Linked DNA regions of Homo sapiens: region 2 is linked to region 1. A link means that fine-mapping ties the variant in region 1 to the plasma level of a protein whose gene starts in the linked region. Region 1 holds a variant in brackets. A gene starts in the other region. All regions are shown on their forward strands. Region 1 overlaps FN1 (fibronectin 1). Region 2 holds the start of ITGA5 (integrin subunit alpha 5).

The links. PIP is the chance, under the fine-mapping model, that this variant and not a neighbour inherited with it causes the effect. Protein levels are from antibody-based Olink assays in UK Biobank. Linkage for the fine-mapping came from a reference panel and not from the study's own genotypes, which makes the PIPs less certain.
Region 2: it holds the start of ITGA5, and the variant in region 1 is fine-mapped to the plasma level of the ITGA5 protein (UK Biobank, PIP above 0.99).

What each region holds. Positions count from the first base shown.
Region 1 is chr2:215,377,337-215,393,003 of GRCh38, forward strand. It overlaps FN1 (fibronectin 1), which reads right to left. Exons shown (of 46, transcript NM_212482.4): 25 at 15,595-15,667; 26 at 14,296-14,478; 27 at 10,876-10,965; 28 at 9,353-9,622; 29 at 7,524-7,640; 30 at 6,684-6,848; 31 at 5,992-6,147; 32 at 4,876-4,989; 33 at 3,475-3,744; 34 at 1,794-1,981; 35 at 839-926. Among named protein-coding and RNA genes, the nearest start is that of FN1-DT, 51 kb to the right of the region's middle. RefSeq lists an enhancer at 13,861-15,060. The variant G/A (reference allele first, on the strand shown) is at 9,479.
Region 2 is chr12:54,412,272-54,427,938 of GRCh38, forward strand. ITGA5 (integrin subunit alpha 5) reads right to left here and starts at 6,995. Exons shown (of 30, transcript NM_002205.5): 1 at 6,710-6,995. The coding sequence starts at 6,927. It overlaps GPR84-AS1 (GPR84, ZNF385A, ITGA5 and GTSF1 antisense RNA 1), which reads left to right. Exons shown (of 4, transcript NR_120487.1): 3 at 15,586-15,654. RefSeq lists an enhancer at 1-744.

The sequences.
Region 1 (15,667 bases):
TCCAATGCTGGAGGTGGGGCCTGGTGAGAGGTGTTTGGATCATGGGGGCAGATCCCTTGTGGCTTGGTGCCCTCTTTATGACAGTGAGTTCTCAAGAGACTGGGTCATTTAAATGTATAAGGTCCTCCCCCCCCAACTCTCTCTCTCTCTCGGTCTTGCTTTTGCCACAGCCATGTGATGTGCCTGCTCCCCCTTGGCCTTCCACCATGAGTAAGCTTCCCAAGGCCTCCCTAGAAGCCAAGAAGATACCAGCACCATGCTTCCTGTAAAGCCTGCTGGCCTGTGGGCCAATTAAGCCTCTTTTCTTTAGAAATTACCCAGTCTCCGGTATTTCTTTATAGTAATGCAAGAATGGCCTAATATGCATTGTTAAGATATAGCAGAAGCCAGTGGGGTCTCCCCAAGCTTAGCTCTATGAAAACAAATTCTAACAAGTAGAGCATAAACTAGATGTCAGTCATAGTCCATAATATCAACATTATAAGCTTATGAAGTGATTCCATTTTATGGGTCAGTAGACCCCTTTCTGAAGGAGTATAAAAGATGACAGTCATGCGTCAAAAAGGCAATCAAATTGATTTTCAAATTAGGACTCATTCCACTGTTAACATATAAATCTAAAAAATTATTTATTTTATTTATTTTATTTTTTTTAAGAGACAGGGCCTTGCTATTTGCCCGGGTAGGTCTCAAACTCCTGGCCTCAAGTGACGCTCCCGCCTCAGCTTCCCAAAGTGCTTGGATTTTAGACATGAGCCACTGAACCCCACTGATTTACCATTCTTTAATTTTTGTCTATACAGAAGGTTTGTCCATATGAAGACATTTTGTTACTTACTCTCCAGAGTGGTGACAACTCCCTGAGCTGGTCTGCTTGTCAAAGTGTCCTTAAGAGCATAGACACTCACTTCATATTTGGTGGCCACCTAGAGAAATAAGGGCATGGTGAGCTTTAGCAACGTCCTCAACTGAAACCCAAGGAGTTTCACTACAGCATTAGGTAAATGCAATGGTTAGAAAATAAAAAATAAACAAACCAGCAAAACCCACAACCTTGAAAATTCCTAGATTAATTTCATTCCTACAGTGCAGGTGATAAATGTATTTATCAATTTTAAAATGCTCTTAGCGGTTAAGCTTAAGTAAGCCATAGATTATATACTTAAACTAAGCTGGTAAAAAAAATGAGAAAAGTGGGTATTAGCGTATTTTTCTTTTTTATGATCTGACAGGTGTAAATCATAATTTTTTCCTTATCATAGAGAGGCAAAGAGAATGTTCCATTTTGTCTCTGAACCCTCTTTCTGTAGTTTCCCCTGAAATTGGCCTTATGTTAAGAGGTACATCAGTCCCCTAGGTTCCTAGCAGTTTTCTGCATGTATGTCTGGAAGGATTTTAAAATGTTTTAATGAGGGTAGGCTCAAGGTAGACTGGTACAAACTGTAAAATATTCTTTACCAAGGTAACAGAGCTCAGAAAATGCATAACTAAGTCGATTTATGCATTCAACCAATGGATATGTAAATTGCCCCCCACAACCTTTTAAAATAAGCACAATACATCTAAAAGAGCTGCACAAAATCCAAAGCTATTTATAAAATTCTGTCCCAATAGTCATCTGGAAAACTTAGGTCAACATAAAGGAATTCCGTTGATATAAAATTACAATAAGATTATTTGATGCAGAGGAAAAGAACAGTTAGATTTATTATGATATTATATTTTCACCACCTTAGAAACTGTGTTAGAGATGATCTCCATCTTTATTCCAATGAACAACGGTCATGTCTTACCATAAGTCCTGATACAACCACGGATGAGCTGTCAGGAGCAAGGTTGATTTCTTTCATTGGTCCGGTCTTCTCCTTGGGGGTCACCCGCACTCGATATCCAGTGAGCTGAACATTGGGTGGTGTCCACTGGGCGCTCAGGCTTGTGGGTGTGACCTGAGTGAACTTCAGGTCAGTTGGTGCAGGAATAGCTGTCGAGATTGTCATTGGTTAGAGGTTATCTTATAGGAAATGGGGGAAAAGGAAAATAAAGTGAGTTCCAAGAAGTAGAATGGATTGTTCTTGTTGGGCTAGGTGGGTTCCCTGGTCAAGCAAAGATTCAGTACAAGAAAGTACGTACAGTAAGGGATGCAAAATGAAGAAAGTGTTTGCTGAGAAATGTGTTTTATATCCACCAATTCTCAGAATCACTGAAAACATTTGGGTAAATGCCAAAACTCTAAGAGATTTTAGGTTTTACAAGTTTTGCTTTCCCTTAAAAAAAAAAGTTACATTGGCTTATTGGCCATTATGATTTATTTTACTTTTGTATGGAAAAATAAGCAATGGCCCTTTTTCTTTCTTAAAATTGTTAATTAATTAATTTAGAAACGGTCTCTCTGTGTCATCCAGGCGGCAGTGCAGTGGAGTTATCATAGCTCACTGCAGCCTTGAACTCGTAGGCTCAAGTGATCCTCTACCTCAGCCTCTTGAGTAGCTGGGACTACAGGCATGTGTCACCACACCTCGCTAATTTTTTCATATTTTTTTGTAGAGACGGGGTCTCACTTCATTGCCCAGGCTGATCATGAACTCCTGGCCTCAATCAGTGCTCCCGGCTTAGCCTCCCAAAGCACTAGGATTACATGTGTGAGCCACTGCACCCGGCCTCCTTTTTCTATTCTACATAAAGTATCTTTGTATGGATAACCATTTCACGCAGTATTCCATCCAAAAAAGAGAGAATAATGTTTTTATTGTCTCTTTATTTGGACCCTATGGCAGATATGGCTGCTAAATTTGACGTTCTCTCTGTAATGCGGCGTAAGAAGAAAACTGGCTCCCAACAGAAGCAGAAAAGAGAAGCGAAAAGCAATAATACAGACTGTCACCTCTAGGGTTTATGCTGTCACTAGGATACATCTTTAGCATTCTACTCTGCTTCAGAAATAAAGCACAAGAAGATAAAGTATTATGGAAAGCAATTGCCCTATTGATTATTTCCTAGGTGTCTAAATCACAATCATTTAAGCTAATTATACACCAGCATATGATATCTAACCAGAGAAGAAAGGTCTTACCCACGTGTGCTCAGAATCATGCTGCTATGAAATGCCCGAGTTTGGGTTCCTTTTTATAAGTAAGCTCTGTAATGCCAAACTTCTTTTCTTTATACATAGTGAGGGTAATCACAGGGAGTCAGAGCTTAGGAAATAATCCACAACTTTAGTATCCTCTTCAAATGTCTTGCTTTATGGTCTTGTGTATAAGCCAGGATACTCCAAAATTTCTTTTAATCAGACTTGTTTCCTTAAATATCACCTAAGTTTTATTGTTTCTTACCATTCCTCTTTAAAGAGGATCTTTCCTAATAATTCTTTTTCACCCTTACACGGGAATCAATAGCCCAGTGAAGCATAATTCATTCAGTAGGGCATAAAGCCGCTGCTCCCATGGGCACCTGGTGGTGCAATTAACCATATACCTGTGGACTGGGTTCCAATCAGGGGCTGGCTCTCCATATCATCGTGCAAGGCAACCACACTGACTGTGTACTCAGAACCCGGTCTGAGGCCTTGCAGCTCTGCAGTGTCTTCTTCACCATCAGGTGCAGGGAATAGCTCATGGATTCCATCCTCAGGGCTCGAGTAGGTCACCCTGTACCTGGAAACTTGCCCCTGTGGGCTTTCCCAAGCAATTTTGATGGAATCGACATCCACATCAGTGAATGCCAGTCCTTTAGGGCGATCAATGTCTGTTAGGCAAATTAATGGTAAGAGGTTATGTGAAAAGCAAGTTGTGAAATAAGCATTTTTATAACATGCAAAGCAGTTTTGCAGATACCATTTTCTTTGATGAAGTCCAATTAACCCACTATCAAAAGGAAAAATCACTTAAACACTTGCTTAATTTTTCTTGGTTTAGAAAATATGCAATGTTGCATCACTTATTAAAACATAGGTGTATGTGAGATAAGCAGATACCCTGCAAAATGTCCCCACAATGGGGATGTATTTATATTAATTTAAAGATATTCTACCACGATTTGATTTTTACAATGTGATGTTAGTCTCATAGACCTGGATTTTCTATACCTTGGAAGTGGTAAAGCTGATTTGCAATGTCAGATTCAAATTGTTATAATTGTTTTGTTTTGTTTTTTTTTGAGATGGAGTCTCACTCTATCACCTAGGCTGGGGTGCAGAGGCATGATCTTGGCTCACTGCAACTTCTGCCTCCTGGGTCCAAGTGATTCTTCTGCCTCAGCCTCCTGAGTAGCTGGGATTACAGGCACGTGCCACCGCGACTGGCTAATTTTTGTATTTTTAGTAGAGATGGGGTTTCACCATGTTGGTCAGGCTGGTCTCGAACTCCTGACCTCGTGATCCGCCTGCCTCAGCCTCCCAAAATGCTGGGATTACAGGCGTGAGCCCAGCCCTATAATGGTTCTTACACTCTTCTTTTCCCCTCTCTATTAAGCATTTATATTACACTCTGGTCCAGCCATAGCCCTTCAAATGCCCCAAACATAAAGCTACATGAGGCACACTTCAATCAACTTTACCATCCAGTTGTAGAAAAGACGGTCTAGGAAAATTTTTTGTAGATTTGCTATAGGCAAATAAGATTTCGCTGAGGCCATTTGAGCAAAAGAAATTCAAAGCACAGCAACTAACTATGGTGGTTTCACAACTTCTTTCTCTGTAAATTCCTCGCTTGGCACTGAGAAGGAAAAAAGATGTTCGTAAAGGGCTCAGCTCAAGACATAAACTAACCAACAAGTTCACTTTCCCTATGTGTAATTGCAAAAGACATGTCGTGGGCATTCAGACACCCAAGAACAAAATTTGACTTTGAAAATGGAAACCAAGCAGTGGTTACGTACTGGTTACTGCAGTCTGAACCAGAGGCTGACTCTCTCCGCTTGGATTCTGAGCATAGACACTAACCACATACTCCACTGTGGGCTGCAAGCCTTCAATAGTCATTTCTGTTTGATCTGCAAAGGGAGTGAAAAGCAAATGCAACATCCACGTCATCCACTATAAAGTCCTCAAGTGGCGTCTAGAGTTTGGTAGTAAACATATGGTGGCCTAGAATTTTTATTTGCAGAATTGTAACAAAAATATGGAGAGTCAGACTTTGATTTCCTCTTGGACAAACCTGTTCATTGCTAATACAAATTACCATATGGGAGTGAAGTCACACTCAAGGATAAGATCTAAAACTTAATATGATGCCCCCAACAATTAGTGATACTGCTCTCAGAAAAAATGAAAATTAACTTGACTCTAATAAATTGCCTTAAGATCCTAATTTCACAAGTATTCTATTTAAAAACAAAGACAACATAGCTAAAAAGAGCTGAAAAAGTCAGTTAGGCCATTTATCTCTTCTTAGTGTGAATGATAAACAAAACCAGAAGGGTGAATCTAGTAATTTAAGATGTCCATATCACTAAATAGAACTATCCATGTAAAAACAGAAATGCACTTAAGACTTCTACTGTGAAAAGGGTTGATAATGATCTTGAGCCCTGAACTCATGAATGGGGACAATGATGACATAGGACAAAAAAATACATAGTACTCACAACAAGGTAGCCATTTATATAAAAAAGAATATTAGGTGGTCCTACCCCATCTATCCTGTTGTATATGAGATGCAGATTACTCTTTTTTTTTTTTTTTCCCTGAGATGGAGTCTCTCACTCTGTCACCCAGGCTGGAGTGCAGTGGGGCTATCTTGGCTCACTGCAACCTCTGCCTCCAGACTTCAAGCCATTCTCCTGCCTCAGCCTCCTGAGTAGCTGGGATTACAGGCACAAGCCACCATGCCCAGCTAATTTTTTTGTATTTTTTAGTACAGACGGGGTTTCGCCATATTGGCCAGGCTGGTCTCGAACTCCTAACCTCAAGTGATCTGCCCGCATCAGCCTCCCAAAGTTCTGGGATTATAGGAGTGAGCCACCGCACCTGGCCGAGATGCAGATGATTCTTACCTGGACCTGCAGTTTTAGTTTTTGTTGGTCCTGGTCCATTTTTGGGAGTGGTGGTTACTCTGTAACCAGTAACAGGGGAACTTGAAGGCAGCCACTTGACACTAATGCTGTTGTCCTGAACATCGGTCACTTGCATCTGGGATGGTTTGTCAATTTCTACAAATAAAAGCAGGGAGAAACCAGTGAAGCCCCAGTCCTTGGAGACAAGATTGGACAAGTCCTCCTCTCTAGGTCTGGTACATATTCGAATGATCGCTTACATGAGAAAGGTATTTCTTCTCGAAAGAATACAGAGAGAGCTTTTAGAGGGATGGGGCAGGCATCTCAATACCATTTCCTATTTTTGAGATGGTTGCTTCATTCACAAAGAAGCTACATTCCACAAGCAGGTGTCTCTTCCTACTTTATCAACTCATCCATTCTTTTCCCACAAATACTTACTGAACACTCTCTATGCCTGTCGTATTGCAGACATGCGGAATATATCGACAAAACTGACTGAACTTCCTGCCCTTGGGGTGCTTCCTTCTTTATCTGGCTCAAAACTCTGTTCGCTGCAGGTGCTAGCTGCAGGTTGTTGCTCATTAAAAAGGAAAATCTATTCTACAATTAGAAAAATACCTTGGGAGAACATTGCAAAACAGTATCTGAATAAGTAAAAGCTGGTGTCACCCCAGAGTAGAAGTTTGTACCTGTTCGGTAATTAATGGAAATTGGCTTGCTGCTTGCGGGGCTGTCTCCACGGCCAGTGACAGCATACACAGTGATGGTATAATCAACTCCAGGTTTAAGGCCGCTGATGGTAGCTGTAGACTTGCTCCCAGGCACAGTGAACTCCTGGACAGGGCTATTTCCTCCTGTATGAAAAAGGGTTAGTTCAGAGTGTGAGGGGTTTAGAGCTACTTGGGTATTACTGATTAATTGAATTACCACATTTATAGCAGCATGTAAATCACATCTTCTTGCTTATTCCCTTTTAAAGAGCGCTATCTTGAACAGAAAGGGGTATTTATGCATGTAGCAAACCTTGGTAAGTGTATAAACATTGAGAGAAAATTACAGTTAGCGCTGTTTTAACATTTCAGCTTTAAAATGTCACTGAGTAGTAGAGTAGCATTAGAAGTGGGAGAAGGTAAGCCCTCAACCCAGGATTGCATGCATTGTGTCCTTTTTAAAACTTTTAACAGAATACATTCCTTTTAAATAAAATTTGGAAAATACAGAAAAGTAAAGAGAAGAAAAAATAAAAATCACTTATTTCCACCACTGATAATATGTTTGTGAATTTACAATCCTTTTATTTCCTCAGCTCTGCCGTTCCCCCTCTAGTTGTAGTATATAAACAACTTTTTATTTGGGTTTTAGAACAAATTATATCATCTATATCTTACGTATTTTCTTGGAAAAAACAAGGGCTCCGTTGAATGGACTTGCCAAAGTTTCTTTAATTCTTTGTTCACTGTTGGGCTTTCAGGTTATCCACAACAGAATCTGATTTAATCAGAGTGTAAAATAGCATTTTACTGCTGTACCTGTCTCTCCGTAAGTGATCCTGTAATATCTCACTGTGACAGCAGGAGCATCCCAGCTGATCAGTAGGCTGGTGGGGGTCGCAGCAACAACTTCCAGGTCCCTCGGAACATCAGAAACTAGAAAAAAAAGGGAAACTTTTCACATCCGTAATTTTCAAACAATATTCAGATTTACTGTTTGTTCATTTTCCAGATAATTGTCTTAATGATTCTTCCATACAATCATGTAAATACTACGTGTAATTAGCAGAATTTTATATTATGACGAATTCAAGATAAGGGGTTACAGAGCCCATTCAAATTGTGATAAAATGATTATTTCAAATTTGGGGAAGAGTTTTTTTCCCTCAACATTTTATTTGGAAAAATTTCAAAACTACAGAAAAGTTAAAAAAAAAAAAAAAAAAAAAAGTGATACAAGGCCGGGCGTGGTGGCTCACGCCTGTAATCCCAGCACTTTGGGAGGCCGAGGCGGGTGGATCATTTGAGGTCAGGAGTTCAAAACCAGCCTGGCCAACATGGTAAAATCCCATCTCTACTAAAAATACAAAAATTAGCCGGGCGTGGTGGCGGGCACCTGTAGTCCCAGCTACTTGGGAGGCTGAGGCAAGAGAATTGCTCGAGCCTGGGAGGCAGAGGTTGCAGTGAGCCAAGATCCCACCATTGCACTCCAGCCTGGGCGACAGAGCAAGACTCCATTTCAGGAAGAAAAAAAAAAAAAAAAAAGTAATACAATGAACACCTATATACCCTTCCCTTAGGTATTTGTCTCTGGCTTGACGACTTGAGACTAAAATACAGATAACATGATGCTACTGTTCCCGTAAGTACTTCAGCCTCTATCTGCTAAGAACAATGACACTATTACCCTAAAATTATATTTTTAAAGGTACTTTGAAACAGTGTTCAGTTTTCCACCTTTTTTTTTTTTTTTTTTGAGACAGAGTCTCCCTCTGTCACCAGGCTGGAGTGCAGTGACACAATCTTGGCTTACTGCAACCTCCGCCTCCTGGGTTCAAGCAATTCTCCTGCCTCAGCCTCCTGAGTAGCTGGGACTACAGGTGCATGCCACCACGCCCAGCTAATTTTTGTATTTTTAGTAGAGACGAGGTTTCATCATGTTGGCCAGGATGGTCTCGATCTCTTGACCTCGTGATCCACCCGCCTTGGCCTCCCAAAGTGCTGGGATTACAAGCGTGAGCCATTGCGCCTGGCCCTTTTTTTTTTTTTTTTTTTGAGACAGGGTCTTGCTCTGTCACCCAGGTTGGAGTGCAATGGCCTGATCTCAGCTCACTGCAACCTTCGCCTCCCAGGTTCAAAGATTCTCCTGCCTCAGCCTCCCCAGTAGCTGGGATTACAGGTGCATGCCACCACACCTTGCTAATTTTTGTATATTTAGTAGAGATGGGGTTTCACTATGTTGGCCAGGCTGGTCTTGAACTTCTGACCTCAAGTGATCTGCCCATTTCGGCCTCCCAAAGTGCTGAGATTACTGACGTGAGCCACCCCGTCCGGCCAATTTTCTACATTTTCAACAAAACTTGTGTTATTAGAAATGCATAAATACCCAAATCAGGTGAGAAATTTCTTGAGAGGAAAAAAATTATCTTCTTTACTGCCACCACGCCCGGGCTTCTTTACCATATTCTAAGGAAGATGTTTCTCCACATTTTCTCACTTCCCTCTCCATGTACCATGACAATGATCTATTTTTTTTTTTTTTTTTTTTTTTTTTGAGAGCTGATGACAGACAACAGCAAGCTACTTTACAGAATCTACCAACTGGGTAGGAAAGTCTTCTGAGTTTCTTTGCAGACAAGAAAAGTTACCTGTTGATTGTTGGCCAATCAATAAGGGACTTTCCTCTCTGCCATTAAGAGCAACGATGCTGACCACATACTCTGTGCCTGGAGTGAGGTTGGTGAGGGTGATGGAATTCCGAGAGTGGGGCACCC[G/A]ATCTTCTCGAGGTCTCCCACTGAAGTGCTCGGGATGATGGCGGATCCTGTAGCCAGTGATGGTGGCTCGAGGAGCAATCCAGTGCACAGTAAAAGAGTTGGCAGTAATATCAGAAAAGTCAATGCCAGTTGGGGAATCAAGACCTGTTTTTCCCACCCGGGGGAGGAAGAGAAAAAAAAAAGAAAAGACACCACCAGTTTAGGAAGTGAGGAAGGTGTAGGGGAAATTAACGTACATCCAACATTTCGTTCCTGTCTCATCAATACCATGATTTGCCATAAACCAAAGAGTAAGATGTACTGATTCTAAGCTACATATGAATTTTAAAATCTTAAATTGACTCAATTCAAAATAGCCAGCTCAAGCATTCATTTTTTTCTTGTGCTAAGTAATTCAAGCAGATTTTAGGGGTTATTACAGTAAGTTTCTGTGTCACATTTGGAGATAAGTGTTCAAGATCTTCTGAGAATTGACATTTTCAAATTCTTCAGTGTTCAAGTATTCTGTGTTTCTATCCTGTAAGTGTATCCTTCCAAGTAAAGCAAGATCTGCCCACTCTCAAAGTAAATGTTTGACTCTCAGAGAAGCCTCCTAAGCTCAAGAGGAAATTTATATGTCAACAGAGTGGTAATGATGCCAAACACAAAACTTTCTGAAACTAAAGACATTATCCCAGACAAATTACAATGCTGATAATTCCTCGTGAATTGACAGTTTTGAAAAATGCATTTTTCAAAAATGCACAAAAATTCAGAGTTTGTTGCAAATTCAAATCACTTAGTCTCTGGGACTTCCAGCAAATTTCTGTTTCAGTTACAGCATTTACTAGTTCTTTTCAATAAGAAACCAAACTAAGATATCATAAGTCCTTTTTGGAAGCAAGTGGACTATAAATAAATTAATGAATACACTAAAGTGTACCTTTTGAAAGAAAAAATTAAAAGCATTCATATTTAAGTATGTAATATTTATGAGATTCAATTCAACTTCCTTCTAGTAAATGCATATTTTATTAAGTAAAAAGAAAATGTAAACTTGCTGGCTTAGTAAAGGAAGACAAATAGATGACAATGAGTGTTGGGTCAGCCATTAGACAGAGCTGCCTAATGAAAAGGAATGTCTGCTAAATCTAAATAACAAAGATCTTCTTAGAAAATGTTTTTTAAAAGGACAGACAACAAATTTCTTAATTTGTTAGTGACTGAAAGTCTAGGTGATTGTTGAGTAAGGTATCTTTTAGTTTTTGAGACCAGCGATAAAATCATACTGTGATGACAAAGGTACACACACCATGACAACAAAAAATGGAGATGTATTTTTAGAAGTAGCATTTCATTTGTTATACAGAATTGATAGGCAAAAGCTACTGGATAGTCATACTGCCAACACCACTCACCTGTTTTCTGTCTTCCTCTAAGAGGTGTGCTCTCATGTTGTTCGTAGACACTGGAGACACTCACTACATATTCTGTACCAGGCAGGAGATCTGTAGGGGCAAATGGGGCTTATTTTAAAACTCTGCTCAAAAGCATGAGAAACTAAAGCACGCCCAGGACTATTTGAACTGATGAAATATCCAAATGTCCAGTCCTATAGCCTACTTACACCTAAGTGAACACTACAGCGAAGTGTTCAGTGAACAGACCTTGAGAAGGTCTGTAATTAGATGATAAGGAAGGGTCACCTTGCCCCATGGCCTCTCGAAGCCCTCCATTCCACCTGTGAGTGTGACTCAGCTGGATTTCGAGTGGGATGAAGTTGCTGCAACAGCTGGATATTTCTCGCATCCACCTGAGAGTATGTCTCTGGAGGGCACATGATAATCCTTGCTGTGGTGCTGTGGATTGCCATTTATGCCTCACAACAACCCTGGAAGGTAGTTTGCTCCTTTTAAAAGCAATTTCTTGTCATACAACGTACTGCATATCTTTAAAGTGATGGGTTTTTACATATGTGTGACTTGGGAGACCATCACCGCATTCAAGAAATGAACAAACCTATCACCTCTAAAAATTTGATTTACTACAATTATCTCCATTTTGTAAATGAAAAAACAAAAAACAAAACAAAAAAAAACTGAGGCACAGAGAAGTTATCTTCTTTAATTTACTTGCCCAGGATCATACTGGGATTGACCCAGGCCAGGACTAGTGGTCTTAATAATTAACCTTTACTGGAAAAAAGCCACACTTAGAAAGCAATCGGTTCTGCCATATTAAAATGAGAGCAGAATATTTTTTAAAAAATTAAATATACATCCCTGAGTATCTTGTTCCATTTTTTTTTATTTTTATTATTTTTTCTTTTTGACGAGGTTTTACTCTGTTGCCCAGGCCGGAGTGCAGTGGTGTGATCTTGGCTCACTGAAACCTCTGCCTCCTGGGTTCAAGTGATTCTCCTGCCTCAGACTCCTGAGTAGCTGGGATTACAGGTGCCTGCCACCATGCCTGGCTAATTTTTGTATTTTTAATAGAGACGGGGCTTCACCGTGTTAACCAGGCTTGGACTGGAAATCCTGACCTTGTGATCCACCCGCCTTGGCCTCTCAAAGTGCTGGGATTACAGGCGTGAGCCACTGTGCCCAGCTTCTTCTTCCATTTTGATACACAGTCAGGCATAGCTTAATGGTGGAGATACATTTTGATAAGTGTGTGATTTGGTGATTTTATTGTGTAAGCATCATAGAGTGTACCTACACAAACCTAGATGGGCTTGTAATCCCAGCACTTTGGGAGGCCGAGGAGGGTGGATCACTTGAGGTCAGGAGTTTGAAACCAGCCTGGCCAACATGGTGAAACCCCTCGTCTACTAAAAATACAAAAAAATTAGCTGGGCGTGGTGGCTCACGCCTGTAATCCCAGCTACTCGGGAGGCTGAGGCAGGAGAATCACTTGAGCCTTGGTGGTGGAGGTTGCAGTGAGCCCAGATCGTGCCACTGCACTCCATCCTGGGCAACAGAGGGAGACTCCGTCTCAAAAACAAAACAAAACAAAACAAAACAAAAAACCTAGATGGTAGAGCCTTTGACACACCTAAGCTATAAGCTATGTGGTCTAGCCTATTGCTCCTAGGCTATGAGCCTGTGCAGCATGTTACTGTACTGAACACTAGAGGCAACTGTAATATATGGTAAATATTTGTATATCTAAAAGATACAGAGAGTGAGGTTTCTAAATTTGGAACTCCTACTCACTAAACCCTCATTCCCCTGCACACCATTTGCCCTTCAGCGTTTCTATAAAGCCCCCTACAAAAGTTTGGAAAAGTGCCAGAATGGAGGACCAGATGCCTGGATTCCATTTCCACCATACTAGCTGGCCAGTGGCAATTTACTTAACTGCTGGGGACCTCGACGGCTTCATGTTTATTTGTTTGTTTATTTTTTTGAGACAGGGTCTCACTCTGTCACCCAGGCTGGAGTGCAGTGGCACGATCATGGCTTGCTGCAGCCTCAACCTCCCCAGGCTCAGGTGATCCTCCTACCTCAACTTCCTACATAGCTGAGACCACAGGTGTGCACCACCATGCCCGGCTAATTTTTGTATTTTTTGTAGAGACTTGGTCTCACTGTGTTGCCCAGGCTGGTCTCGAACTCCTGGGCTCAAGCAATTGGCCCACCTCAGCCTCCCAAAGTGCTGGGATTATACAGGCGAGAGCCACTGCACTGGTTTGCTTCATCTTTAAAAGAGGATAATAATGACTTTGCTAGGAGGGAGAGGGGCTACCCTGAGGTCATCTGTAGCATTAGGATTATAATAAGGTCTTAGAACACATGATTAGCATGTGACAGGTCTACGGCTAAGGGACAGACATTGTGATGCAGGGGCTTGTATACTGGGTGATGCTGTAATTAGTGATTCCAGGGTGCTCTAGAACAGAAGCAACAGCCCTGGGGTGGTGGATATGCCAATATAAAGATATTCTTGCCCTCAGCCACAAAGTAAGAAACCAAGATTATGGTCACGCTGAGCTGCTCTTCTTTGTGTTTCATTATCTAAATTATGTTTGAAAGGTAGATGTTTTCAGACTAATACTTGGTAATGTACCTAAATGTAAGCTATTTTTCCCTTATGTAGAATCTTTTGCTGTTGTTATATATTTGACTATTACAGTGAAAATAATAAAAAGCACTGTTTATGTGAAACACAGCACCATCTTGCAGCCTACTGTTTTATTCTTTAACAAAAGATGTCTATTCTATAATGGTTGGGACTAGAAAGAGACAATTTCCATAAATTGTTGTTATTTATTTAATGTCAGTTTTTTTTCTAAGCTCTCAGTCTTCTGAGAAATCCTTCTAACAGATTCTTTTTGAAGTACAAATTAAACTTCTGACTCTCTTCACAACAACATTCTAATCTAGACCAAACAATCAGTCACTTTTCTAAGTATTCAAATCCTAAATCAATCAACTGCTGACACTTTTTTTATAAAAATGAGAATAAAGCACATATGGTGACACTATTTTCAGTTCTCATTTTTTTCTCTAAAGATTTAGATTTAGTCATATAATTTCTCTTGATATTCACTTATTTTTACGTGCTTATTTAGAAGCAGAATTTGTTTGAAGTCATGGAACTTTCCTGCAGGTGTTTTTCCACTATGATTTTTTTAAAGCTGTAGATATCAAAAGTATATTAAGATAGCAACAAACATTACATCTTTCAAAATTAATGGAGCTGTGCATTGAATTCAGAGTTTAGTTTGTAGCTTGGTTGCAGCTCTCTTGCTCTTAGCTCCTCCTACTTGAGAATTTAGAATTCATTTGCTATGCTCTAGGTTAATATTTATGGAACAGATACATTCAACTGCTTACTTGTTAAGACCACTGCATTGTCTGAAGGAGAAATTGACAACTCTGCAACATCTTCCTCATTTTTCACAGGTGAGTAACGCACCAGGAAGTTGGTTAAATCAATGGATGGGGGTGGAGCCCAGGTGACACGCATGGTGTCTGGACCAATGTTGGTGAATCGCAGGTCAGTGGGAGGAGGAACAGCTGGTTTCGAACAAGAAGGAAGACTCAGTTAATGTAATTTTAAAATTAAAGCTAACGAAGTAGCTGGAAAGGTAAAATCAATATTTCATGCATAAAGGAAACAGAATCATAATCATGCAAACAGTCTAATCTAAGTCTATTTTAAGTTATAGTGTACTACTGTTAAAAATAAAACACTACACACAGTACTGTTAGGCCCCCTTTAACCTTTTTGCCATCATTGATATATTTAAAAAAAATTTTAATCTACTTTCAAATATGTTGACTTTATGTACATTATTAATACCACTGCAGATTATTTTATCCCAGGCCGAAGAGGCTTAAGTTGCCACACAGCAAAGAGAAACATAGCAGTACTTTACAAAGAAATACATGCACACAGACAAAAAGACAAGAGGGTCCTAAACTTCCCCCCATGTGAGATATCTAGAGCTACAGTTCCATTCAGTGAATTCTACTTACAAGTGAACATGTTCATGCAAATTGGTTCTCAGCATGTTTCTTTTCCCATGCACAGCAGAGAACCTTTAAAATGTTGCATGCTTGTCCCCAGACTGTGGTTAAAGAGGTGTTTCTTTACCTAGTGACAGCAACAAAACCTAGAATGCTCCCAAGTTTACTTTTCTCCTACCTCAAAACAATGCCCATCCACTCTACCCTAAATTTTGATGGGTTTTTAGCTACAAAGAAGGAGCATGGTAGAGTTTATCAAAGGGTAGAAGGAAGATCATGATGGTACATTTTGGTGATATATTTCTTATAATTAATTGGTACTTACGCAATTTGGTATTCGTGTTTGGTATTTAAGACGAAAAATTCTAGGTCTTCAAATTGAATGAACATTTGCTATTTTATATTTAACAGAGCAGACATCTGTATTTCTCTAGCTTTATATCTACTTGTGGTTTAAATGAGAGTGTACTGAAGAATACTTGCATGTGTTTTTCTCCAATCAGTTTAGCAGATGCATTTGATTCCTTATCCCCCCAATCCACCCTATCTGAATCTTTGGCCAATTGCTGACTTCCCCCATGAAACATCCATATTTAACCGGAGTAACTGGTGGCAGCATGCAACACCATCTATGTCTCAAACGCAGAAGTTTTCAAAATTCACCCGTTTGTTGTGTCAGTGTAGTAGGGGCACTCTCGCCGCCATTAATGAGAGTGATAACGCTGATATCATAGTC
Region 2 (15,667 bases), not on the chromosome of region 1:
AGAGCCTGTACCCCTGGCTTCTCCCTCTCCTCTACGTACCTGCTGAGATTAGATGTATAGCTTCTGGAGCGCCAAGGTCCTGTGGAGCCTCAGGGTCTCTCATCTAGCCTATATACTCTCCTCCCAAGCCAAATCCCCTCCCTGGGCCAAGACCCAGGCATCCGGCTGCCCAGCCACCCAGCCTTGGGGCGTGTAGGAGGAAAATGTGAGTCTTGGAAATCAGGCAGCAGGAGTGGAGAGAGGAGCTGGAGGACAGTGAAAACAGATTGTTCCACTGGGCCTGGGCCTGCCCTCACCCCGGCCCTGGTGTGGGCCTCCCCTTCCTGGCTGGGTCTGTGTTTCAGCCCTTGAACCCCTTTCCCATAGACCACCCCCAGCTGACTGAATTCAGAGTCTGCTCTACCGGGGTCCCAGTTCTGGACACAGTGCTTCTGTTCCCCCTGATATGAGGGGAAGTTTGCCCTGTGTAATGGGGTGGTCATAGCTAAGGGCCTGGGCAGTCCTCCTGCCGTCAGCTCTGCCTCATTCATCCCTAGGTCTCTTGCCTCCAAGACCTCCACACCGCTCTTGGCTCTCTTGGTTTCCCCTAAGGGTCTCCTGCCAGGACTTGTATCTGGCAGCCTGGGCAACTCGACCCAGCCTCTGGACCAGTGCTCCTGCCAGCCTTGGCCTCTGCTCTGCTCTGTGTCTGCCTCTGGCACTGCTTCTCAATCCCTCTGTCCCTCTGCCCCTATGACTGCTTGCTCTCTTGGTTTTGGTTTTTGAATCCTATCTCTCTATCTCAGATTTTACATTTCTCCATCTCTATTGGTTTCTGTTCACTTTCAGCTTTCAACCCGTCCAATACCTACCCTTTCCCTGATATTTGAATACCTTCCTCAGCTTTCTCACTAGGCAAGAAGGCCCAAAGTGAAGGATTATGGTAGAGGTCACAAGAGCTGGGGGTATTTTCCAAGAAGACCAGGTATACTGAGGCGGGGAGGAGTGGCCCAGGAGGTATAGGGGATGGAAGCAGCAGAGAGGACAGGTCCGAGGGGACGGAAGAGGAGAGTGAGGAGGGGTCTGTGAGGGCCAGTGGTGAGAATGGAGGGGAGAGAAGGCAGGGTCCAGAGGAATAGGAGATGGGTAGGCTGAAGAGGGAGAGCTCCTGAAGTTAGGAGGGGTGGGGAGGGGAGGTGCCAGTCTCCGTTACTCTGGGGACAGGAAATGTTTACTGCCTGTGGCTTCCTGTCTGTTTCCAACCTCTCACTTCTCCGTTTGTCTCCCACACCCCCACCTCCGTGCCAGGCCCCACCCTTCTCACTTAGGCATGACATCCACTTGTGGGGTCTGGCTGCACCGCCCTAGGGCTGGGTGATGTGAGAGAAGGAGACCCCTCTCTCAGCAGGGGCAGCCCCCAGAGAACTTGGTTGCTGCCTTCAGGCTCTAGAAAGCAGAAAGGGCCACCAACCTGAACTAGACCAGAACAGCAGAGGTACAGGAAGCAGTGAAAGGAGCACTGGACCAGGAGCCAAGAGTTCTGGTTCAGGCACTAACTGTGGACTTGGGCAATACCCTCTCCCTCTTCCTCTGGGTGAAGAAGAGGTTCTCTCAAAGTTTCCTGGAGCACAGGGCTAAGGCCAAGGGACCCTATTCCTGCTGCCAATTTCTCCAACACCCACTGCTCTTGGAGAGGAGCTGAGCCTGACACTCCTGGGGTGGCCTGAGGAAGTAGCCTGGAGTTTAGCAGGGTTGCAAGACAGAGAGTTTACAAAGCTTGTAAAGCCCACAAGCCAGGGGCATATCCATTCCGGCTGTGCGATGGTTCAGGATACCTGGCATGCAGGCAAGGGACACAGACCTAGGCCTCCTTTCCTCCCGGCACACTACCCATGGCTTATTCCTGGACAGGCAGTGGCCCTTCCATCCCAGCAACCTAAAGTCAATCCAATAAATAGTGCCTCCCCTGCCAACACGCCAAGTGAGGTGACTGGTGCCATGGATGGCATGCAAGCTAGTTTGTCCTTATTTTCCCACATCTTTTTCCTGCTTCCTAAATCCTGCAGCAGTTGGGCACTTTTAGGGGTCTAAGAAGGTAACAATGGAGGGTCCGTGTGCTATTTTCAATATTTCAGAAAGCCTAACGGAAATCATGCATTTACCAGATAAGGTGGCCTAGGCTAATTAAAACCTCAAGTGTATTTGCTTTTGGCTGGAATTATATCAACTTATGTGGGAACCTGGTTATCTCATGCTGGTCAGAAACTCTGATTGGCAGCTATAGATGTTTTTGGTTAATAAAAAATGAGAAAAGCGCCAGGTGCGGTGGCTCACGCCTGTAATCCCAGCACTTTGGGAGGCCGAGACGGGCAGATCACGAGGTCAGGAGATCGAGACCATCCTGGCTAACATGGTGAAACTCCGTCTCTACTAAAAATACAAAAAAATTATCCGGGCGTGGTGGCGGGCGCTTGTAGTCCCACCTACTAGGGAGGCTGAGGCAGGAGAATGGCATGAACCTGGGAGGCGGAGCTTGCAGGGAGCCGAGATCACGCCACTACACTCCAGTCCAGAGACAGAGCGAGACTCCTTCTCAACAACAACAACAACAACAACGGCCAGGCGTGGTGGCTCACGCTTGTAATCCCAGCACTTTGGGAGGCTGAGACAGGCAGATCACCTGAGGTCGGGAGTTTGAGACCAGCTTGACCAACATGGCGAAACCCCGTCTCTACTAAAAATACAAAATTAGCTGGGCGTGGTGGCACATGCCTGTAATTCCAGCTACTCAGGAGGCTGAGGCAGGAGAATCGCTTGAACCAGGGAGGTGGGGGTTGCGGTGAGCCGAGATTGCGCCATTGCATCCCAGACTGGGCAACAAGAGCGAAACTCCGTCTCAAAAAAATAAAAAATAAAAATAAAAAGAATGAGAAAAGGAATTCATTATTTCTTACTAAATGCAGGTTGGCAGGTACACTTTTCTGAAATAGAGTCTGAGAGAAGAAATAACTGCCAGAATTTATTCTGAAGCCTCAGAAATGGAAGGGTTGGTCCTTGGAGACACAGACTACCACAGCTAGAAGGCACTGTAGAGAGCATCCACTGGTTTTAAGACTTCACTGTAGGTGCCTGAGGCCACATGGCATAAAGGCAGACTGGCCTCGTTCTGACACTCCCTAAGAAAAAGTTCAAAGCTGCTCACCTCGTCCCATGTTCTCATTCTGCAGATGGGAAAACTATCTCAGAGGAGTTAAGTAATGGGCTTAGGTCACTCATAATCCCTCCCAGAATATGAAGCAGAAATCAGGAATCCTGATTTCTACGACAGCATTCTAGTCTACCCCATTGCCAACTTATTCCCTCCTCTCATATCTGCTATCTCCCCAGCTTTTGATTAACCAAGTCCCAGTTCAATACTGGGTTACTGTTTGACTCTGTTGGCCTGACAAGGTCAGGGGTGGAGAGCAGCAAGTGGACCAGCGCCCAGCTCCTACAGGTCCTACAGCAGCATGGGCCAGGCCAGAGGAGGACACCTGGTTTGGGGTCCCCTAGTGCATTCACAAGGGATATGTATGATTGGCTGGGGAAGAACAGCTGTCTCCACTTGTGGCAGTTGCAGAAGGGAACAAGGAGCTGAGCTGAGACTGGCCTGCCTCTCAAGCTTTCAAGTGTCCTGGGCCAAGTCACTGCCTCTCTTCAAGCTTTGGATTCTCTGGCATAAAATGATGGATTTCCCTTGAATGTTTCCTAAACTAACTTCTGGTTCAAAATTTCTATGACTCCTGAAGCCTCAGTTGTTTTTATTTTTTGTTTGTTTGTTGTTGTTTTTTTGAGATGGAGTCTCACTCTGTCGCCCAGTCTGGGGTCGCTCAGTACAGATGTGATCTCAGCTCACTGCAATCTCTGCCTCCCAGGTTCAAGGGATTCTCCTGCCTCAGTTTCCCGAGTAGCTGGGATTACAGGTGCGTGCCAGCACGCTCGGCTAATTTTTTTATTTTTAGTAGAGATGGGGTTTCACCATGTTGGCCAGGCTGGTCTCGAACTCCTGACCTCAGGTGATCCACCCACCTCCGCCTCCCAAAGTGCTGGCATTACAGGCGTGAGCCACTGCACCTGGCCAGCCTCAGTTTTTGTATATCTAAAAATGGGGCAATAATGCTTCCTTTGCTTTAACACAAGGATTTTTGTTACAATCCAATGGAAAAATCGATATGAAAGTGCTAAAGGAATATGACAGACTATTGTTACTATCACTAGTATAAGCAAATACTCAAAGCAAGTAAGAAATGAGGGAACTAGGCGGTAGCCAGGAAGGAGAGAACCAGAAACAGAAACAGCTACCCCATAAAAACCATGCCGCCCATGTATTGATCACTCTCTGTGGACCAGGTTCCTTTTGTATATGTTTTCTCATTTAGTCCTCAGAACTCCGTTAGTCAGGTGTCTGATTTTCACGGGAAGACCAGGCTCCAAGAGCTTAAATACCTCTCCCTAGGTACTAGGGTACCACGCAAAAAACTAGTAAGTAGTGGGGACTCACACCTACCTCTGTCTGACTGAAAGCTTTGCCCTTTCCTACCATCTAACTGCTTTGGTGCTCGCCCTGTCCTTTAATACTATTTTGGTGTTCACCACAAGAGGTGATGCAGGAAGAACAAGAACACTGAGGCTCTCCCTCTTTGGCAATGGCTGTAGGTGAGGGGCTGTGTTTGTCTTGTGTTGTGGGAAAGGGGGTGAAGGCCTAGCTGTGGTGGGAGGAGGTCACTGGGGAGGTAGAATGTTCCACTGTAAGAGGGTATTGTAAATAGGAAATGAGAGGGAAGGAGTGCAAGCTGGACACCTGGGTTCTCTTGGGAGGGGAGATGAGCAGAAGGGGAGGGGGAAGGGATGAGAGAGCTAGGTCCTGTTTTAGAAGAGGACTTTAGGGACTACAGGATCAGGCCAGGGGCCAGACAGACACCTAGGGGACCAGGAATGTGTGAAGTCCAGATGTTTTAGAGGAGTGTTTTAAAGGGAAATTTAGGGGAGGGGGGAGTAAAGAGAAGGTTAAATGCCAGACAACTAGATACTCTGATCTGCGGGAGGAGACCTCATCCCCTTCCTCCTTCCCTCTTTTCTACTCCATTAGGGCTGTGATAAGAAGTTTGAGGGAACCTGGGGGAGACCAGGCCTGGCAGAGGCTCCAGGCCAGGGTGATGATGCAATGGGGTTTGGGCAAAAGGCCAGGGGGGTGGGGTGGGGGTTGGGTGGGGACCTTGAATAGCCCAGAACAACAGTCGGGGCCTAATCATTTTTCTTTTCTCCCATCCCCAAGTCCTCCAGACAAAGGAGAATTTGCCTTTCTCCCCAGTTGTATTAGCTAGATTAACCCCTTTTCTCCAAAAACTATAGGGACTGAGTAGAGATCAGTTAACTGTCTCATGTGTAAAAACAGGTCGCTTCTGACAGAATTCCCCTCAAACCCTGAGATCCTGGGGTTGGGGTGGGGGTGAGCAGTAGGAAGCTCCCAGCTCAGAGATGTAGAAGAAAAAGGATTACACCAGTCATTGTGGAGGACCAGGAATCTGGCATCTATGGCCTAGCCCAGGAGCAACCACCTACCTCTCTTGCTTCCCAATCTCCCCGCCATCCCACATTTAAACAGACACCCTTGGTTCTAATGTTGCTTCCACTCTAACTCCTGTTTCCCAAGCCTGTCAGTACCCCATTTTCTAGGCACTCGGGGTCCGGGTCTGCTTATCACTGTGCTGAGTTGGGAATAAGGATCCTCCTTTGAGATTTCCAGGGTCCTGAGTCCTTCATTCTGACGTTCTTGGCCCCACGGAGCCCCCGTCTCCCCAGCTTCCGACCCCAGCCCCAGAAGTCCCGGTCTCAGCACAGCTCCAGCCGACCAGCTACAGGAAACCAGCTTTTCTCTTCCTCCCAAGAGCCAGAGGAAGAGGGAAACCGCCCACCCCCCTTCACGCGCGCACACACCCCTCCCGACACATCCCAGCACCCGCCCTTGGCTGAGTTCGCCCCCAGCCCCAGGGCCCCAGTGCCAGGGTCCCCGCACTCGCCCCCAGTTCTCGGATCCCCTCGCCTGAACAGAGATTGGGGGCGGAGGGAGGAGTAGGAGACAGAGGAGAAAGGAGAGGGAGCCGCCGTCCTCTCTCGGGTCTTTCCCCGGTCTGAGTTGAGGGGGGAGGGGAGGATGAGGCTGGCCCCCATTTAACCTTCCGACCCCCTCAGTCTTTGACTTTCCTCCTACTACACGTAGCTCATTCGGCTTCTACCCGTTCTCTCGCCGCACAATGGCCCCTACGGATCCCGAGGTCTCCTGGAGCCCCCAAAAGCCCTTCCCGGCCTCTGCGCCCCCTCTGCGCCCCCACCCGCCCCAGGTCCCAGCAGCCCACAGACTTCAGCCAGAGACCCTCAGCTCTCCATTCACGCGCTCTCCTCTCCCTTGGCCCGGAGACCCCTGCCCAGACTTCTCCAGCTCCGTGTCCTCTCCCCACCGGACACATGTCTCCCCACTGATCTCAAACGCCAGGGCCCCTCCTCACCCGCCACGGTGCCCTCCCTACTCCAGCGCGGGCCCCCAACTCTAGCCAGGGCCCCCAACTGCAGCTCTATTCCTTACAAACTCCACCCTCAAACTTAAGCCCTGGTCCCCTCCAGACCCCAGCCGCGCCCCCAGTCTCCAGGCGGCTCCCCCACCCCCATCCCGTCTCCAGCCCTCCTCACTCACCCGTCTGTTCCCGGCCGGTAAAACTCCACTGAGAATCCGAAGAAGGAGCCCGGGGGCCCCGAGAGTACTGCTGGGGCCTCCGCGTCTAAGTTGAAGCCCCCGACCCTGGGTGGCGGCGGCAGCAGCAGCAACAGCAGCGGCAGCAGCGGGGGTCGGCGCCGGGGGCCCCAGCGCAGCTGCACGGCGTGGAGAGGGGACTCTGGCGTCCGGCTCCCCATAGCGCCCGCTCTTCCCTGTCCTGGGGCCACCGACCCGGAGCCGCTTCCTAAACCTCCCAGAGGCGAATGACTCAACGCGGGGAGGAGTTTGCCAAACTCCCGGCTGAGCCCTCCCCCCGCCTGCCGAGGGGGCTGGCGGGGGGGCATTCCTGGGTCCCTGGAACTCTGAGCCCGCGTCCCCCACCCCTAAGGGGCGTGGGGGGGGGGCGCACCCCTCCAACCCCCTTTCCCCAGCCCCAGCTGGAAGCCGGTTGTCTGGACTGGGTTAGACTGGGCGGGTTTGGGTTCTTCCCCCTCCTCTCTGCTTCCCCCTCCTTCCTCCCCATTCCTTTCCAGATGTACAACGTAAACGCTCGGAAAACGAGTCGGAAAAGGGAGCGGAGAATTTCCTAATGAGGAAAGGAATCACCTCTGGTGGGCGGAGGAAGCCTGTATATGTGTGTGGGGTCTCCCTCAGTGCTTTAGGGAGGAGACTTTGGGGTCTAAAGAGACAGGAGACTCCTCTGGCGTCCGGCCAACTGGGATTCCCCCTTGCCTTCCGGGGCCGCCGGGTGCCTGGGTTCTGGCCAGCTGGATTTGGGACACAACAGTTGAGGTACAGAGACAGCGTTCGCAGTCAGCTTGCTAGAGGACCTACACGGGCTCCTCAAGTTCCGCTGCTTCCTCCTCCAAGCTTGCTAGTATTGAAAACCCAGGAGTTTGGGGTCATTCATCAGGAGGATTCTGCTCCAGTTTGCCCCCTTCTTGGTCCTAGGGTATGTAAACCTCTGCTGAGCCCCTTCCTTGGATCTGACAGTTGACCAAAAGCCTGCGAGTGGCTGGCCCCTCAGTACCTGCTTGATTAAACTGGCCGGGTTCCTACAAACCTGGAGAATTGTGAGAGGTGGTGGTGGTGGTGGAAAGTCTTGCAAAGGGACCCAACCTTCAGCTCCTAATGGCTGTAAACGCTGGGAGCTCTGGCCAGGCACGGTGGCTCACACCTGTAATCCCAGCACTTTGGGATGCCGAGGTGAGCAGATCACCTGAGGCCAGGAGTTCAAGACCAGCCTGGCCAACATGGCAAAACCCATCTCCACTAAAAATACAAAAATTATCCAGATGTGGTGGTCCGCACCTGTAATCCCAGCTACTCGGGAAGCTGAGGCAGGATAATTACTTGAACCCAGGAGGCAGAGACTGCAATGAGCCGCGATTGCACCACTGCACTCTAGCCTGGGTGACAGAGCAAGACTGTATCCAAAAAAAAAAAAAAAAAAAAAATCCAAAAACCAAAAACCAAAAAAACAATGGGAGCGGAAAGCCAGGACCCCATTCTTCCCAGATTCCCCTGTGGAAGTAGAGGAAGGGACTCTAGAAAGGGAAGGCAGTGACCCCCTGCCCACCTCTTCCCCAAGCTCAGGCTCTGTGTGATGAGATCACTTTTCAGGATTCTAGCCTTTATCTTAGTCTGGGGGAGGGGACTACAAGTCCTTTCAGTCTCTTTCCTCCAGGACTCCTCACTTTCCAGAATAATACCCTGTCAATAATATCCTGTCAACCCTGTCCCTTCTGTTCTCCAGTCCCCTGCCCCACTTCGGGCTGAAAGGCTCAGAATAAGAGTGCCCAGAGTCAATGTTTTTTTCCTGCCATGACTCTCCCCCTCACTCTGCTACTCCACTTCCTGTCCCAAATCACCCATCTGCTTTTTTAAAAGCCCCCCTCCAGAGCCAGCTGCAGCCCAAGGGAGAGGCTGGCTGGCCAGACTGTGGGGCAATGCTGGCCCGTATCCCATTCTCACATCTGCAAGTCCTGACCCTTTCTTAGGTGAGGAACCCAGGGAATCTCTGGGTCAGGATCTTTAAGCCCAGCATTGCCAAAAAGGCAACCTTTAGGTGAGAGCTACTCAAGCCATGGGCTGGGAACCCCCTTTGGGAGGAGAAGGGCTGAGGCCTGATTGCTTTTTAGCCCAGCAAAACACGTGTGTGAACCAAACACTCTCCTTTCTCAGTCTAGGCAAACTCTTTAGATTTTCCCAGGATTTGGGAGATTAGGGGTGGGGGTGGGGAGGGGTGCAGGGAAGGAGGTGTGTGACTCAGCTCCTCCCAGGAGCCTTGGTGGGGGACAGGGGACATAGCGTCCTGCCCCAGTCCTCCTCCCCACTCCACCCCTAGCCTTGGCCAACTCAAACAGGCCCCCTCCCTGTCCATTCCCTGCTCCTGTTTACACCGGGAGCCCCTTAGTCATTCTTTGGCTGGCCTTTCTACTCTCCCCAATATCCCTCCTCTCTTGGCTCTTTCTGCCCTTATAAGTCCTCTCCCAGTGGCCCCAACACCTCCTGCCTTTCCTCTCACCATGCCTGCCTTTGCCTGATCCTCTCTTCCTCTGCTCTGGGTTCGTCCTTAACTTGGGGTCCCCTCCTAATTAGAGCTACTTCAGCACAGACCTCCAGGCCTGGAAGCTGACCTAGAAAGGCCAGTGAGGAGGGGATAGAAGCCATCAGTCCAATCTTCTCCTTCAGAAGAGGAAATGGGTGTAGAGAGATGAAGTGATTTGTCCAGGGTCATATGGCTAGCCAGTTAGCGGTGAGCCTAGAACCTAAGTGTTTAGACTCCAGACCCAGTGCCTTCTCCTCTAAGCCCACTGCCCCTCTAAATGATCTATCTCCTCTCAGCTTTTTCTTTCTATCTTGTATATCTCTCAGCCTTTCTCTGGCCAAGTTTGTGTGTCTCCAAGTGCCTCTGCTTTTTCTCTTAAACCTGACCTCTTTGGTACCCTCTGTCCCTTCATTGCTCAGTAGGAATGATTTGCTGTGATGACTGACCATTATTAATCATGGTCTGCTTGATGGAGAGGAAGAAGGGTGAAGGGCAAGGCCAGGACACTCAGCAGGCTCCTGTTGTCGCCAGCCTGCTTGCCCTGAAGGCTGGAGTTTTAGAACCACAAGAGTGAATTTCCACAGAGGAGTTCAGGATACAGGTGCAAGTTCTAACGCCAGGGGTCATGCTGAATTTTAGTAGTGTGGAAGAGGGGTGGGGAGTACTGATAATGGTTTATTTAGCACATGCTGTATTCCTGGCCCTGGGCTTGACCTTTAATCTGCCTCTATCCCATTTATCCCAACTTATCCAGCACTGAAGGTATCATGATCCTCATTTTACTGTTAGGAAATCGAAGCCTAAAGGAGAGAAGTGACTAAGCGAAGGCCAACAGAAAGGGGCAGAGGTAAATCCAAACCCAATCCCAGTAGATTTCAGAGCCGTTGCTTTTCCCACTGCAATGTCAGCCCTGTAAACCGGCTGGGTTTCTACAGAGGTATGGGGGAAGATTCTAGAGTAGGAATTATAACCTAGATCCATTGTCCTTGGGGTGGGGTGGGGGAAGATTGGGTATACAATCCATTAATCCTCTGAAACTGGATGGAAGTTTTTGTTTATATGCATGTGATTTCTCTGGGGTGAGACTCAGTGGCTTCTTTAAGATTCTCAAATGCCTGGAAATTCTGAGAACACTAAGGCTGGATGCCTTGGTTTTAAGAAACAGACTCAGGTCTTGTTGGGCTGTAAAAAGTCTGATTGGGTAGAGGTGGTAGAGGCTGAGGTGTCCATGAAATAAAACTTCCTAGGCTGGGTGCAGTGGCTCATGCCTGTAATCCCAGCACTTTGGGAGGCCATGGTGGGTAGATCACGAGGTCAGAAGTTTGAGACTAGCTTGGCCAACATGGTGAAACCCCGTCTCTAGTAAAAATACAAAAATTAGCCACGCGTGGTGGTGGGTGCCTGTAATCCCAGCTACTTGGGAGGCTGAGGCAGGAGAATTGCTTGAACCTTGGGAGGCAGAGGTTGCAGTGACCTGAGATTGCACCATTGCACTCCAGCCTGGGTGACAGAACGAGACTCCATCTCAAAAACAAAACAAGACAAAAACAAACAAGCAAACAAAGAAGTTGGATCTCACAGAGGGAAGGAAGGTGGGATATTTAGGAAAATTATGAAGCTGAAGGCGGGGGTGGGGGGATTTCCAGAAGTAGAATAGGAGCCCAGTTATACCAGGATCCAGAGACTGCTGAAGCTGGGGAGTTGTTCTGTGTGTGTGTGCGTGTATGTCTAAGAAAGGGAAATTGGAAAGTACAGGAGTAGACCATTTGCACCCTCAGGCTCTGTTGCTTCTCTGACTCAGGTCTCTGCCTAGAGGAACTGAGGGCTCTATCATCTGTGAGTCACCTCCACCATCCCTACCCGCTGTCTGACCCAGGAGAAACCCCTCCCCTGTGTCCTATGCCTAAAATAAACCCAGGCTCCTCTCCTTTTTCTATCCCCAGTTTGCACAGAGCACAGGAGGGGTGGATGGAAGATGTTTACTAGGGTGACAAAAGCAGACCTTAGCAATAAGATTCGTGGGTTCTATTGTTGCTCCAGGACTCCGAACCCAGTGATTAAGACTGTGACTAGAGCCAGATGTCGTGGCTCACGCCTGTAATCTCAGCACTTTGGGAGGCTGAGGCGGGTGGATCACCTGAGGTCAGGAGTTTGAGACCAGCCTGGTTAACATGGTGAAACCCCGTCTCTACTAAAAATACAAAAAATTAGCTGGGCATGGTGGCGGGAGCCTGTAATCCCAGCTACTCAGGAGTTTGAGGCAGGAGAATCGTTTGAACCCGGGAGGTGGAGGTGGCAGTGAGCCGAGATAGCATCATTGCACTCCAGCCTGGGCGACAGAGAGAGACTCAGACTCAAAACAAACAAACAAACAAAAAAAACCTGTGACTAGATACCTCTGTGGAGACCAAACTGGGAGTTTTTCCAGGCGAGACTAGGTTGGAGAGGCACATGGAGACAGGGACTAGGGGATGGGCACTGACAGGAAAGGAGCAGAGCTAAGAGGACACTGGGATACAAGATATAAGACCCAGGAATCCAGATTAAGCAGATCAATGGGAAGGAATTTCCCCCACTCTTGCTAATGTCTTCTCTTCCAAAAGTTCTTCAGTTTTTCTTATTTATTTATTTATTTATTTATTTATGGCATATTTAGAGGCACCAGAATGCTATGGCAAAATGTAACAACCCCAGATAGGAAGTTAAAAGGAAAATAAGATCCTCTGGGGTGTCCTAAGCATTGACCTCATTTTATTTGCTTACTCATGCCACCCCCATGACTTTCCTTTCTCTCCCCTTTGCTGCCTTGTACCTACCTCTGGAGAGGAAAGGGGTGCCTGAATCTTCTCAGCTCAAAGGCCTGGCAGTCAGAGGAGAGAACCATCCGGGGTGGGAGCTGTGGGTGGGAGTGTCAGCTTCTTGGGATGGCCTTCCCAGATGTAAGCACATCTGGAGCCCATCAGGAAGGGACCTGGAGCACCAGGATTCCCAGTGCACATCCGATTGGGGCTATGAGGGGTTGAGGATGAGCCAGGCGTTCCCTCCCACCTCCACAAGTCTGCCTGCCATTTCCAGCCCTCTCTTGGGAAGGATTATCAATCCCAGACAGAAAGGGCATTGGAAAGAGGTTGGGGAGGAAGGCAGGAGGGCCACCGATTGCACTCCAAACCCAGACATGCTATGTTACTAGCTTCAGCTCTTTCTGGCTTTATAGAGATAACAGCATCTCTGATCAGGTAGGAATCAGGGTGTGTGTGTGTATGTGTAGAGCATAGTGTGCCATTAGTCCTTAACACAATGGCACAAAGTTGGGGATGGGGCACAGCATGTCCCTCTCCTTGCTTTTCATAAGTCTTCCTCATGAGCTCTCTGGACCTCTGGCGCTCCTCATCTCTCTACCTCCAAACACATACACTCCTTCCTTGGCTGCAAATTCCTCCCTGTCCATCATCACCTCACAATGAGCACATTTGTTTTCCAGAGATCATGTACAGGGCTAAGAATAGGTCCATCCCCTTGCCTTTCTCTTCAGGGAGAGCTAACCTGTTGGGGTGCTGAACTAGGGGATAAGTGGGGTTTACAGAAATTCCTGCAAAGGTTCCAAGTGTCCCCAGCAGCCAGTGCATAAAAGTAAAATGGAGAGTCTCTGGGGCTGAGATTTATGAGCCCAGTAATATGGAGCACTCCTGGGAAGCAGAGCCCCCTCCTTTTCTTCCAGAGCTATAACTTGAGGAGGAACAAAGCCTTAGAAGATTCTTAACCCCTGGACTCCAAGGTTGAGGCTTACTAAATTGAGATAATAGTATAAAAGAAAGTAATGTTGTATACAGTTTATACATTCACAATTCACAAGTGATTACTTCTGGGTCTAATGTACAAAAATATATTGGACTTCCTACCTTACCTGCAGTAAAGGTTGAATTGCATTCTGTCCTTTGAATACCCACACCCCCGACCTCTGGCCTCAGTCCTTGATTGGACTTCAAAGCCCTAAGGGAGAAGCCAAGAGGAGGAGCTTTCTGACCCTTCAGTTTATATTCCTTTCAACAGATGTCCAGCAGTTGGGAGGTTGGGTACCCTCTTCCAGTCTCTAATCTACATGTGGCTAGAGGGTTCCAGATGACAGAATTGTGGAACTGGGAGGTAGGGCTAGGGCTTCCAGGTCTCTGAGATAGAAAAGGGGTGTGTGATGAGATTGACCTGGGAAGAAGAGAAGTTTGGGGTTTGATTAAAGGGCTGGGTGCCTAGGAACAGGAACGGTGGGATGGCACTCCAAGCTTTCACCTCTAGGGAGAGTGGCCCTCCCTTCAGGCCACACTCTTCCATCCAGTCGGCCAGGGCTGGCCACACCCCCACAGCTGGCTGGGAAATCTCAACCCTACCCCTCTCTACAAGCCAATTGCTTACAGATGTTCTAGGAAGGGGGGTTGTTGAGAGGAGGAAGGGCAGGATAGGGGTAAAGGGAAGGAAAACTCAAGGAAAGAGGGAAGACTCATGGAAGGGAGAGAAGAAGTTATGGCCAGGTGGGGAAGCCTGTCAGATGGTGAAGAAGTCAGAGAGAAAGAAACAGTTGAAGAAAGAAAGAGAGAAAATGAAAAAAGGGTCTCATTTTCCCCTGAAATCCACCCTACTCTTTGCAGGCAAATTAATCTTCCTAAACCAAGGCTCTGATGATGTTACTTCTCAGATCAAAACCTTTCATGGCTCCAACATTTTAACTACTAAAGATCTGTCTGCTCTAAGATTCCTAGAATTGTGCAAGGGACATTAACTAATAAGTGCCATTGATCTAAGTAGTATATATTTTTGAGTGCTTACTATGTATAAAGCTCTGTGGGCTATGCTGGGGAGAAAAAGGAGGGAGAAGGAGGGGGAAATGGGTGAGGTTGGAGACATAAATAAGAGCAAAGAGGTAGACAGAGAGGGTTCCGCGAGAGGAAAAGACAGAGGGGCAAGGGATTGGTGAAGGAGAAGGGGGTGGAGGAACCAGGAAGGAGGATCCTAGAAAGATGGTAGGAGAGAGGAAAGGAGAAAGGAAAGGGGAAGCGCATAATAGAGATGGGGGACAGAGGGAAAGGAACGTGAGGAGAGGGAGGGCAGGGGTGCAGAGTCATGGAGAGTGGGAAATATACTTTGGAAGACTGGATGGAGAGACTAATCCTTTCCTCCTGCCAGGTCAGGAACTCTTCATTGGCCAATGAGAGGCAGTGTAACACTGGTCTGCTCCTTCCTCTGCCACCCCCAGCTTCCCATTTAGGACCCAGCTTTCTATGTCCTTTGTCATTTTGGGGTCATTGAGTTGAATCTATTCTTGAGTTCCCTGCCCTCCCACTCCCACCCCGGGGGACCAATTTCTGAAGTCATCTTCCCCCCACTTATTACACTGCAACCTAGTCTCCCTTGTCTTTTTTGGTCCATCTTTGGATTTATTTCCCTGAAGTGGGTGGGCAGGAATGAAGCAGACTAGAGGTGCTTCCAGATCTGTTCCGCCCTTCATCAGTGTCCACCCTTCCCCTCTGAACCAGTCCAAGACTGCGACATTTGTGTCAGAAGTCCCTTTGGCCCCTTTCCTGCTCCTGAATCCCTGGAGTGGTATTTGGAGGTGGGAGGAGGGGTAAGGTCCGAAGTGGAAAGTCTGACGCTGAGTCCAGGCCCCCAGCCCCACTCAGACTGGCTGAGCTCATCTCTCCAAGCAACCGCAGCTGGACATTTTCCATGTGATCACCTCAGGGAGGGGGGCTGGGTTCCAGAAACCCAGACAGAGTTGACTGAGTATCACAGCTTAGGAACAGAGCACCCTCAGGTGCCTCCTCTCCGCCTTCTCCTGTGTTTTGCATGGGAAAGCCCTGGGGGAGTAGCAAGGAATGGAGAAACAGACCTGGAGAAGGGCCAAAGCTGGAATATATTTTGGGCCCAAGTTGACCCAGGTTTCTACATCTTTCCCATGTTCACCATTTGTGCTGGCCAGGCTGGGAAAAGATCCTGTGTGATGTGAATGTGCCTGTGAGGTGAAAATCTCCCTCTCTGTGTGTGTATGGTCTGAAAACCTGAACATGCTTGTGTTGGTGTATTTGCATGGGTGGGGTATCTGTATCCTGATCTGTCAATAGGCTAAAGTTGGGGGTGTGTGTGTGTGTGTGTGTGTGTGTGTGTGTGTGAGGTGTGATTGCCCCTGCTCTCTTGCCAGTGCAGTGGGAGGTGAGATAGCAGTTTGGGGAAGAGGGCTGCCTGTTCTTACAACTCTCCCAACCCTCCCCACTACCACATCCCTTCCCAAACTCATGGTGTTCTCTTTCAACTGCAGATACTGGAGGGCCAGAGAAAGCAAGCTTGAAACAGAGAGGAACGGGTCACTTTGGTGGAGGAAATTGGGGTAAGGGAGCTTC